Regions from separate parts of the Homo sapiens genome. Here regions 1 and 2 are each linked to region 3. The links come from fine-mapping of genetic effects on gene expression. A gene starts in region 3. Each other region holds a variant in brackets. All regions are shown on one strand. Distances are between the middles of the regions.

Region 1 (2,757 bases), 35 kb before region 3:
AGTGAGAACATCCTGCAACAACTGGTTGCAATATGGAATCCACAATAAAGGGCATGGTATATTCCACTATTCAAAATCTGGGTGCTGCTGAGCCTTTGTATCAGTAAGAATGAAAATCTGTGCACAGGTGCGTGAGTATACACACACACCAAGAGATCCCATTGTTCCGCCTCTGCCAGCACACCACTGGTTATGGGGGGAGGTTTCCACACATGTCTGCCATCTTCCTTCTCCCCTCTCCTCCAGCCCCTTCTTTTCTCCCCGTGATTTCTTTGCAGAAGGACGGGGCTGTGCCATTTGTCCTGTGAGTCCCGTGTCCAGATGGTGCTGATCACATCCCCAGGCGTCCTTGGAGATGCTGCTCCCTTCCCTGCATTTCATGTAAGTTCTGGGGTTAGAACCAGCAGCTTGATTTGATGACATTTCCCTGTAGTTTGCTAGGAAGGTGTGTCATTCATCAGGGACACAGAGCACCCAGGACCCTCACTCCCAGGGTCGATGAAACAATCTGGTTCTGTGTGAAGAGCCCATTGTTGGTCCCCCATCCTCGGGCCTGGGCACGTCCCACAGAGCAGAGAGGACGGGGCCTCCCCTGGGCTCTGACGTCCAAGGAGAGAGGACGGGGCCTCCCCTGGGCTCTGACATCCGAGGAGAGAGGACGGGGCCTCCCCTGGGTTCAGGCATCCGAGGAGAGAGGATGGGGCCTCCCCTGGGCTCTGACGTCCAGGAGGGGCTCCCACCCCGAGATGCCTCTGATCCCTTCCAGAGGGAGGGGTGAGTAGATGCGGAATAACGGCCTGGGCTCTGTTTCCACTTTGAGTTCCTGACGAAGGGTCTCTGCACCCCCTAAGCTCTAACTTAACTGGTCCCTCCTAACTTTCCCTTGAGGAACAGTAAGTCAGTGACCCAAGCACATTCTGTTTCTAGTGGTGAGTGGAGGGTCCTGCAAGGTGCTGATGAGTCCCTCAGCGAGGCAGGTGTGGGCTGGATTTGCAGGGGCAAGAGCTTTTCCCTCACAATCCATGGAGGCTGAGTCCACGGTGGCCATCCAGCCCCTTGCCCCTGCAGGGAGCCAGGCCCCGAGGCTGATTCCTGCTGACCCCTGACTAGAAGACTCTCAGCCTGTGGTCTCCACCTGATCCTTCTGGAGGAAACCCTGGAGCTCTGGTTTCCAGTTCAAGCACCCCGTCCTCACCCCACATGCATCCTTTCCCACATCTGTCCCACGGGGGATTTTGATGCCTCTCCTCTCTAATGCCACCAGCCTCAGTGACCAATCGTCCACCCCCATGGGTGCAGGGGACACTGGATCCCTGGTGTCACAGGAGCTTCTCATCATCCCCCACTGCCTCCCTTTCCGGCAGCAGATACGGGGTCTGCACGGCCCTGCAGAGGGGTTGAGTGAGTGTAGTCATGGATTTGGGAACCCTGAAGGGAGAATGTCATTGTCCTAAGGCTGGGAGACAGGCTGGGTGTGCAGGTGTGCATGCGGCATGTGTGTGTACAGGTGTTCATATAGCTGTGATGTGGGCGTGTGTGTGCAGGTGTGTGTGCAGGTGTGTGTGCAGGTGTGTGCAGGTGTGTGTGCAGGTGTGCACATGCATGTGTGTGGAGCTGAGTGGATGTTAGTGTGCGTGTGTATCTGTGTATCCATGTGGGTGTGTGGATGTTGTGTGCGTCTAGTATGCATGAATGTGCAGACGTGTTTTC[A/T]TGTGCATATGTGTGTATGTGTGCATGGATGTGTTTTTGGTTGTGTGTATATGTGTGTACATGTGTTCTGTGCAGGTGTGTATTTGAGAATGTGCGTACACACAGGTATATGGGATGTATGGATATGAGTGTGCATGTGTGCATATGTGTGTACGTGTGTGTTATGAGTATTTGAGCATGCATGTGCACACGGGTACGTGGGATGTAGAGATGTGTGTATATGTGTACACATGTGCTATGTTTGGGTGTACTTAAGCATGCATGTGCACACATGTACATGGGGTGTGTGGATATGAGTGTATGTATATGTGTGTACATTGCTCTGTGCAGGTGCATTGAGCATGTGTGCATAAGTGTGCGCACATGTCTGGGATGTGTGAGTGTGAGTGCACGTGTGTCTATGTGTGTGCATGGCATGTGTGTGGTGTACATCCGTGTGGGTGTGTAGCTGTGTGCAGGTTTGTGCAGATGTGTGTTTCAGTGTGTGCGTGTGTGCACATGTGCATTTTGTTTAAAACTCAGGGGGAACCTGTGGTGAGAGGCGTCCCCACAGCAGGCCGCTCCCCACTGAGCTTATTCCAGAGGCCGTAGGCCTCTCGCTGGGGGAGGGGGGCTCAGGGCCTCGGTGGCAGAGGCCCAGGTCACATCAGGGTCACAGCACCAATGGGGCTGGGTGGATGTGGCTGCCAGTCCAGCTTGTGGGAGCTGGGTCACTGGGGAGCAGCCCCCAGCCTTGACTCTGACAGCAGACTGTGGCCGGGTGCACCCAGGGCTGCCGGGACTTCTGGTTCTCCAGGATGAGGTGGAAATCCAGGTTTTACCTGAAACATCCCAACTTTGAACTATTGGCAACAGACTCAGAATTTCACAGGATGCCATATGGACTACATGGAGCATCCCAGGCTGGATGGAGCCCCCGACCCACTGGCTATCTCAGGAGCCATCCATGCTCAGGGTTTTAAGCGCTTTTTCTCATTTTGTGCTCTCCTGGGAGGTGCAATTTAGAGGTGATGGAACCCATTGGAAGGGCTGACCTTGGGGGATTGG
Region 2 (2,757 bases), 340 kb before region 3:
CTCCTTTGTGGTAAGCAGTGAGAACCAGGGCCCTTCAGAGGGGAAGCAGACCGTCGGTGTCCAATGTGACCCCAGGAGGGTGTGGCCCACCCCAAAAAAACAGTGTTGGGGGGTCTTCTTACCTCAAGCGATGCCCCGTCGTGTCCCTAGCCAACCTGGGTTTCCAGGAATAGATGTGGGAGGAGGGACCCCCACGAAGGAGGTGACTTTCCTGAACAAAGCAACCTCCCAAGACTCTTAGAATCTGATAACCCTTCACTCTTACTCCTCAGGGGAGAAGAGTCTCTTCCGGCCAGGCCATGGCAACCATGGGTTTGATGAGCTGTTGAATTTCCTACTGGAAATCAGCAGCCCAGAGCCCTGCTTCTATGGCAGGGTCAGGCAGGGTCAGTCAGTGCTCGCGGCATGGACTCGGGAGCGAGAGGGCCAGTGTCCTGGTTTACAGAGCGTGGGGTGCAGGGAGCTGATTATTCACTCTGTGTCTCCATTTCGTTTTTTGCAGAATGAGCTTTGGTGTGGATTTAACCTGAACAGGGCAGGCACAGAGTGTATGCTCTGTGTGAATTGACCTTCTGTATTTTCATCCTTCAGACGTGGAACCAATAGAATCTCCTTTATAAATGTATCGATCATTTCTGCCCAGAATCTCTTCCTGTTCTTAATCACTTGGCCTGAGGCTCCACTCCTGACCCCATAACTGTACAGGGTTCCCTCAGGCAGCAGGCTCCTTAAAGAAAAAACTTTACTCTTTTTTTTAATAGAGTAAGTGAGTCACATCCTTTTCAGAAGTAGCATCCTAACGTTAGTACATAAGATGAAGTCACAAATAGCAGAATGACCAAAGGCAACACCTTCGTAAGCCCTTGAAATACAGTGACGGACACAACACCCCTCCCTGGACCCATGGGTGTTGCTTCCTGCAGCCAGGGACCAGGTTCCTGTGTCTCCATCAGAGCCCCAGGCCAGGGAGTGAGTCTGCATTTACCGGCTGTGTTGCATGAAAAGCGTGGGCCTCTCTATGGCACGAACATGCACCTCGGCTCCCTGGAGGAATGAAGGGAGGCCCTAAGTGTCAGGCAGTGACCGCTAACCAGGGACCACAGCTTCACTGTCAGGG[T/A]CTACTGGAGCCGTGGCCTCACCAGGGTCCTAGGCTGCTCATCCCCGTGGCATGAAGGCCAACCAAGTTGGTGGAGAAAGAAAATAAATCACCGCCTGCACAGTGAAAATTCTGTTGGACGTTGAGACGGCTGTGGCGACCGTTCTCCTCTGCATCTTACCTGTGAGCAGCAGTCCTGTGGAGCGCAGCAGCGCCAGTGTGTTCTCAGGAACCTTCTGTCCGAACGGAACAGTTAGTGTTGCAGGCGTGGTCTAGTCGAGAGACAGAATTGACTCAAGACATTTCACAGGGAGGAAATGTAATGCAGAGAATGGGTGGAAGAACACAGAAGCCAAACCCAGGGGCGTGGAGCAGTCCAGAATTTAGCAACAGCAGGAATCCAGCACACTGCTCTTTGTCTTGGGTTAGAGGGAGAAAGACGGAGGCAAAGCTGGGACTTCAGTAACAGCAGACGCTCCCAGACAAGCCAGACACACCGGAGGGAGCGAGACAGAAAAGCACCAGGCTGTGGCCTCCCCACATCTCCCGCCTGCCATGTCCTGCTGAGGCCTCCCATTGGCCAGGGATGCTGTGGGTGGGCCTGTTCAGGTTCTTGACATCTGTGCACGAAATAATTTGGGAGCAAGTCCAAAGTAAGAGTGGGCAAAGAAGTTTATTGCAAAGCGAAAGTGTGCACCACTAGCTGGGTCAGAGCGGGCTGCTCTGGAATAAGACAGTGAGACTGGCACTGGGAAGTTCCTTTGATGGGAGTCTCACATGATTATTCCTGAAGGAGCAGGAACTAAGCATGTTGTGGGTGGGTTCCTGGGCCTACAGAGGCCGTCACTGTACATGCTGGCACATACATTGCCTGTCTCATTAGCATTTTAAATCTCTGCCCAGGCATGTGTTTTTCACTATTACAGTGAGCAAAGTTCAACATAAGGACATGGTTCTTGGCTCGGCCTTTGGGACTTTTCCTCCAACAGTCACTCCTCCTTCAGCAAGGAAGTTGCCCACTGCGGGTGACCACAGATGTCTGTCCCAGCCACTTTCTGGAGCGTCCGTTACTGACCGGGGCCCCTGTGCTAACCTGTTGGCCCCATTTGGCTTGCTCTTAGCCGCCTGCAGGTAATCTTGCCTGTTGCCTCGGTAACTGCCTGCTTAAGAACTGCCCAGAAATGGGGGACAAGGAGGCCAGGGAGTACAGCACCCTTGGGAAGCAAAGAGCAAAGCAAGGTCAGCGAGTGGGTCCAAGGGCAAAAGCAAGTGGCCCGCATGTCTGTGCATCTTTGAGGTTCCTGGAAGGTAAGTTTAAATGTTTGCTGTTTTTAATATATTGTGGGGCTTGGGGGCCAATTTTTTTTATCGTGGTAAAATACACATAACATAAAATTGACTATCTTAACCATTTTTAAGTGTACAGTTTGATGATACTAAGTACATTGCTTTTACTGTGCAACCATCACCACCATCCAGCCCTCCATCCATCCATCCCTCCATCCATCAATCCATTCCTCCCTCCATCCATCCCTCCATCAATCCATCCCTCCATCAATCCATCCCTCCATCGATCCATCCATCCATCAATCCCTCCATCAATCCATCCCTCCATCAATCCATCCCTCCATCAATCCATCCATCCATCTGTCCATCCCTCC
Region 3 (2,757 bases):
TATTTGGCCCACAGTGTGCTAAGCACCATTCTAGGTGCTGAGGATGCTAAGGTGACCCCAACAATGTCCCTGATCTCTTAAAGCTAATTCTGGTGGGATGCTGAACACAGGATGTAACCTAAGGTGGTGATGAGAGGTACACAGACAAATCGGAAGGCACAAGTTAGCCACCAGTGAGGGGAAACTCCAGACAACGTAGACACATAAGGCCAGGTGGAGAAATGGATGACTGAGTTAAACTTGGGTAAGGAGCCTGGCAAATGAAGACAGAAGCATGACCCAGTCAGGGGAAACCACAACAAAAGACGTTTGGTGGGAACTGCCTGTTTCTTAATTTCCAAAAATCAGTTAAAGGTTCATATACATTATCTCATTTCAACATCACTGGTAGAAAGATTCCATTTTTATGGAGAGGGGATCTGAGGCCCAGAAAGGAGACGATCTGTCATCGTTTTCCACTCAAGGGCAAACATGGGGATATCCCATCCCATCCCAAAGCCTAAGATTTTGCACTCCAGGCCCTTTGTCTGACCTGAAATTACTGAGCTAAAAGGGACCGAAAGATCCTAATGGAACCACCGATGGGAAAACTGCGGCCCAGGAGGAAACACACCAAGCAAAATTGCACCGTATCCAGGTGGCCAGTCTCCAGACTGGGGTCTCCCTGCCCCGCCAGACCATCTCCCGGCGACAAGGGTCTCAGGTTTCCGAAATCTCGCCACCCGCGAGTGATTTGCAGCGCAGGGGCCTCTGCTGCCTCGGAAACCTTCAAAGGTGGGCGGGTCGGGGACCAAGTCCCCCTAGGGATGGAGAAGGAAACGGGGCCAAGGAAAAGGACATCGCCACCCTGGGCAGAGCACGCACGGCCCCAGCGACTCGGACATGGTGAGGGGCGCGGAGGCTCGGGGTGGACCCGAGGCCTCCACACATGTGGCAGGCTGCAGCAACCCGCCACCCACGAGGACTCGCCCAAGGCCCAGAGCGCGCCGGGCCCCTCCCTCCGACTCCGTCGCCGCCCGACTGGCCGCAGCGGAAGCCGGCGCGCGATCCCACGCTGCGCTTTCGCCACGTCCTGACGGCTGCCCGATAAAACGGACATTAAAATTGCACTTTCCACTGAATACAGCAGCGCCTATTGTGGCGGCACACCTGAATGCGAAAATTAAAGCCAAAATATTTCCTAGCGGCTAAAAGAGCTCCAAGCCTAGGCGAATCTGCCGGTCCGCTCGCCGGAAATGCGGGCTCTCCTGCCGGAAGCTGCCCCTCCACCATTTTGTGGCCCGCTATGGCGGCGGTGTTGAGGTTGGGTACGGGATGCGGGGTCTTTGACTGAAGGGGTAGGCCAAGTGGAGGTATCAGGGACGTCGCGCGGCACAGAAGAGGACCAGCCTGGACGCCGGGGACGCTGTCATGTACGGCGCGAGCGGGGGCCGCGCCAAACCCGAGAGGAAAAGCGGCGCGAAGGAGGAGGCCGGGCCAGGCGGTGCCGGCGGTGGGGGCAGCCGAGTGGAGCTCTTGGTTTTCGGCTATGCCTGCAAGCTGTTCCGGGACGACGAGCGGGCCCTGGCTCAGGAACAGGGACAGCACCTCATCCCCTGGATGGGGGACCACAAGATCCTCATCGACAGGTCGGTTCCTCTCCCCACCCGTCGATCCTTCCCTTCCCTCACCCGCTTGATCTCGTCTGATGTTGACTTGACTGCAAGGACTGCAGAGAGTTTTCTGGAGCCAGCGGGGATCTGGGGGACACCCCCTCCCCTGTCCCCACCTCCTCCTGGTGTTCTGGTGGGGAGGGGGACGGTGAAACCTGCCCTAAGGCACTGGCTGGAATTGCGTGCCGCGTCCGTCTCCGGAGGGATCGTCTCTGGTCCCGCAGCCCCTCTCGACCCCTCACCCTGTCGCTGGGCTGCAGTTGGCGATTCCGCGCGGTGAAAGCAGCCAGTGCCCAGGGTCTTTTCCTGAGTGCACCTGGGCCTGCCGCCCGGCGATGCCATGGGGTCGTGCGCTGCTTTTCTACTTGCCGCGCTCTCACTGCTCGGTGTACTGGGAGGGTACCCTGGGAGGCGTGCCTTTATTCTTCCGAACCGCCGCTCACTGAGACAGTGGCTAGAAGTGTCTCTTGGACCTGTGAGTTAGCCTTAACCTGTTATGCCCCCAGAGCCCTCAGTGGAGCGCCCGTACTTTGCCGGCATGACGTTTGATTTCCCGGTGATAATCCGACGAGTTTGACAGATTGAGGTAGTGAGCAAAGTTGCCCGTCAGTTGGTGGCCACTTGACTTCGTGCGGACCCTGGCCTTGCTCTTGGAAGAGATAGTGTTCTTAGGGCTGGTTTCACTGTCTCTTAAGACTGAAGGGTGGAGCTGGGATATAGATGTGTTGTTTCTTTTCAAATCAAACCTGCTTTAGGTCGTCACTCGAGGGTGTCTAGCGATTATGGGCAGTGGGGGCCTGGGATTAGGGATTTCTAAAGGCGTTTGATTTGAAAAGGATAACATTACATGATGTAGGTGGTTTGCTCCCCTCTTTCTTCCCATTTTTTCAATCCCCCTTCCCCTCGTCTCTGGGTTTTGGGGTTGTTGTGGGGTGGTTTTTTTTCTTTTTTGCCTGTTCGGCTACTTCTGGGGCCCGGACTGAAAAGCTAACCATGACCAACCATTAAACTGTGGAATAGTCTCTCCACGTGAAGAAAGCCCATCGTTTGAGACCATTAAAACTGGATTCTTCATAGCCCTGGAGCATGACTGTAGGGATGACCT

What was found. PIP is the estimated chance that this variant, and not a neighbour inherited with it, causes the effect. A credible set is the group of variants that fine-mapping cannot tell apart.
Region 1: its variant is the best candidate, but not a certain one, in a credible set for the expression of SFSWAP in whole blood (TOPMed, PIP 0.52).
Region 2: its variant is the best candidate, but not a certain one, in a credible set for the expression of SFSWAP in whole blood (TOPMed, PIP 0.62).

What each region holds. Positions count from the first base shown.
Region 1 is chr12:131,674,798-131,677,554 of GRCh38, forward strand. No RefSeq gene overlaps it. Among named protein-coding and RNA genes, the nearest start is that of LINC02414, 28 kb to the left of the region's middle. The variant A/T (reference allele first, on the strand shown) is at 1,711.
Region 2 is chr12:131,370,114-131,372,870 of GRCh38, forward strand. No RefSeq gene overlaps it. Among named protein-coding and RNA genes, the nearest start is that of LINC02370, 24 kb to the left of the region's middle. The variant T/A (reference allele first, on the strand shown) is at 1,118.
Region 3 is chr12:131,709,820-131,712,576 of GRCh38, forward strand. SFSWAP (splicing factor SWAP) reads left to right here and starts at 1,271. Exons shown (of 18, transcript NM_004592.4): 1 at 1,271-1,628. The coding sequence starts at 1,411. RefSeq lists enhancers at 826-915, 1,056-1,345, 1,436-1,505.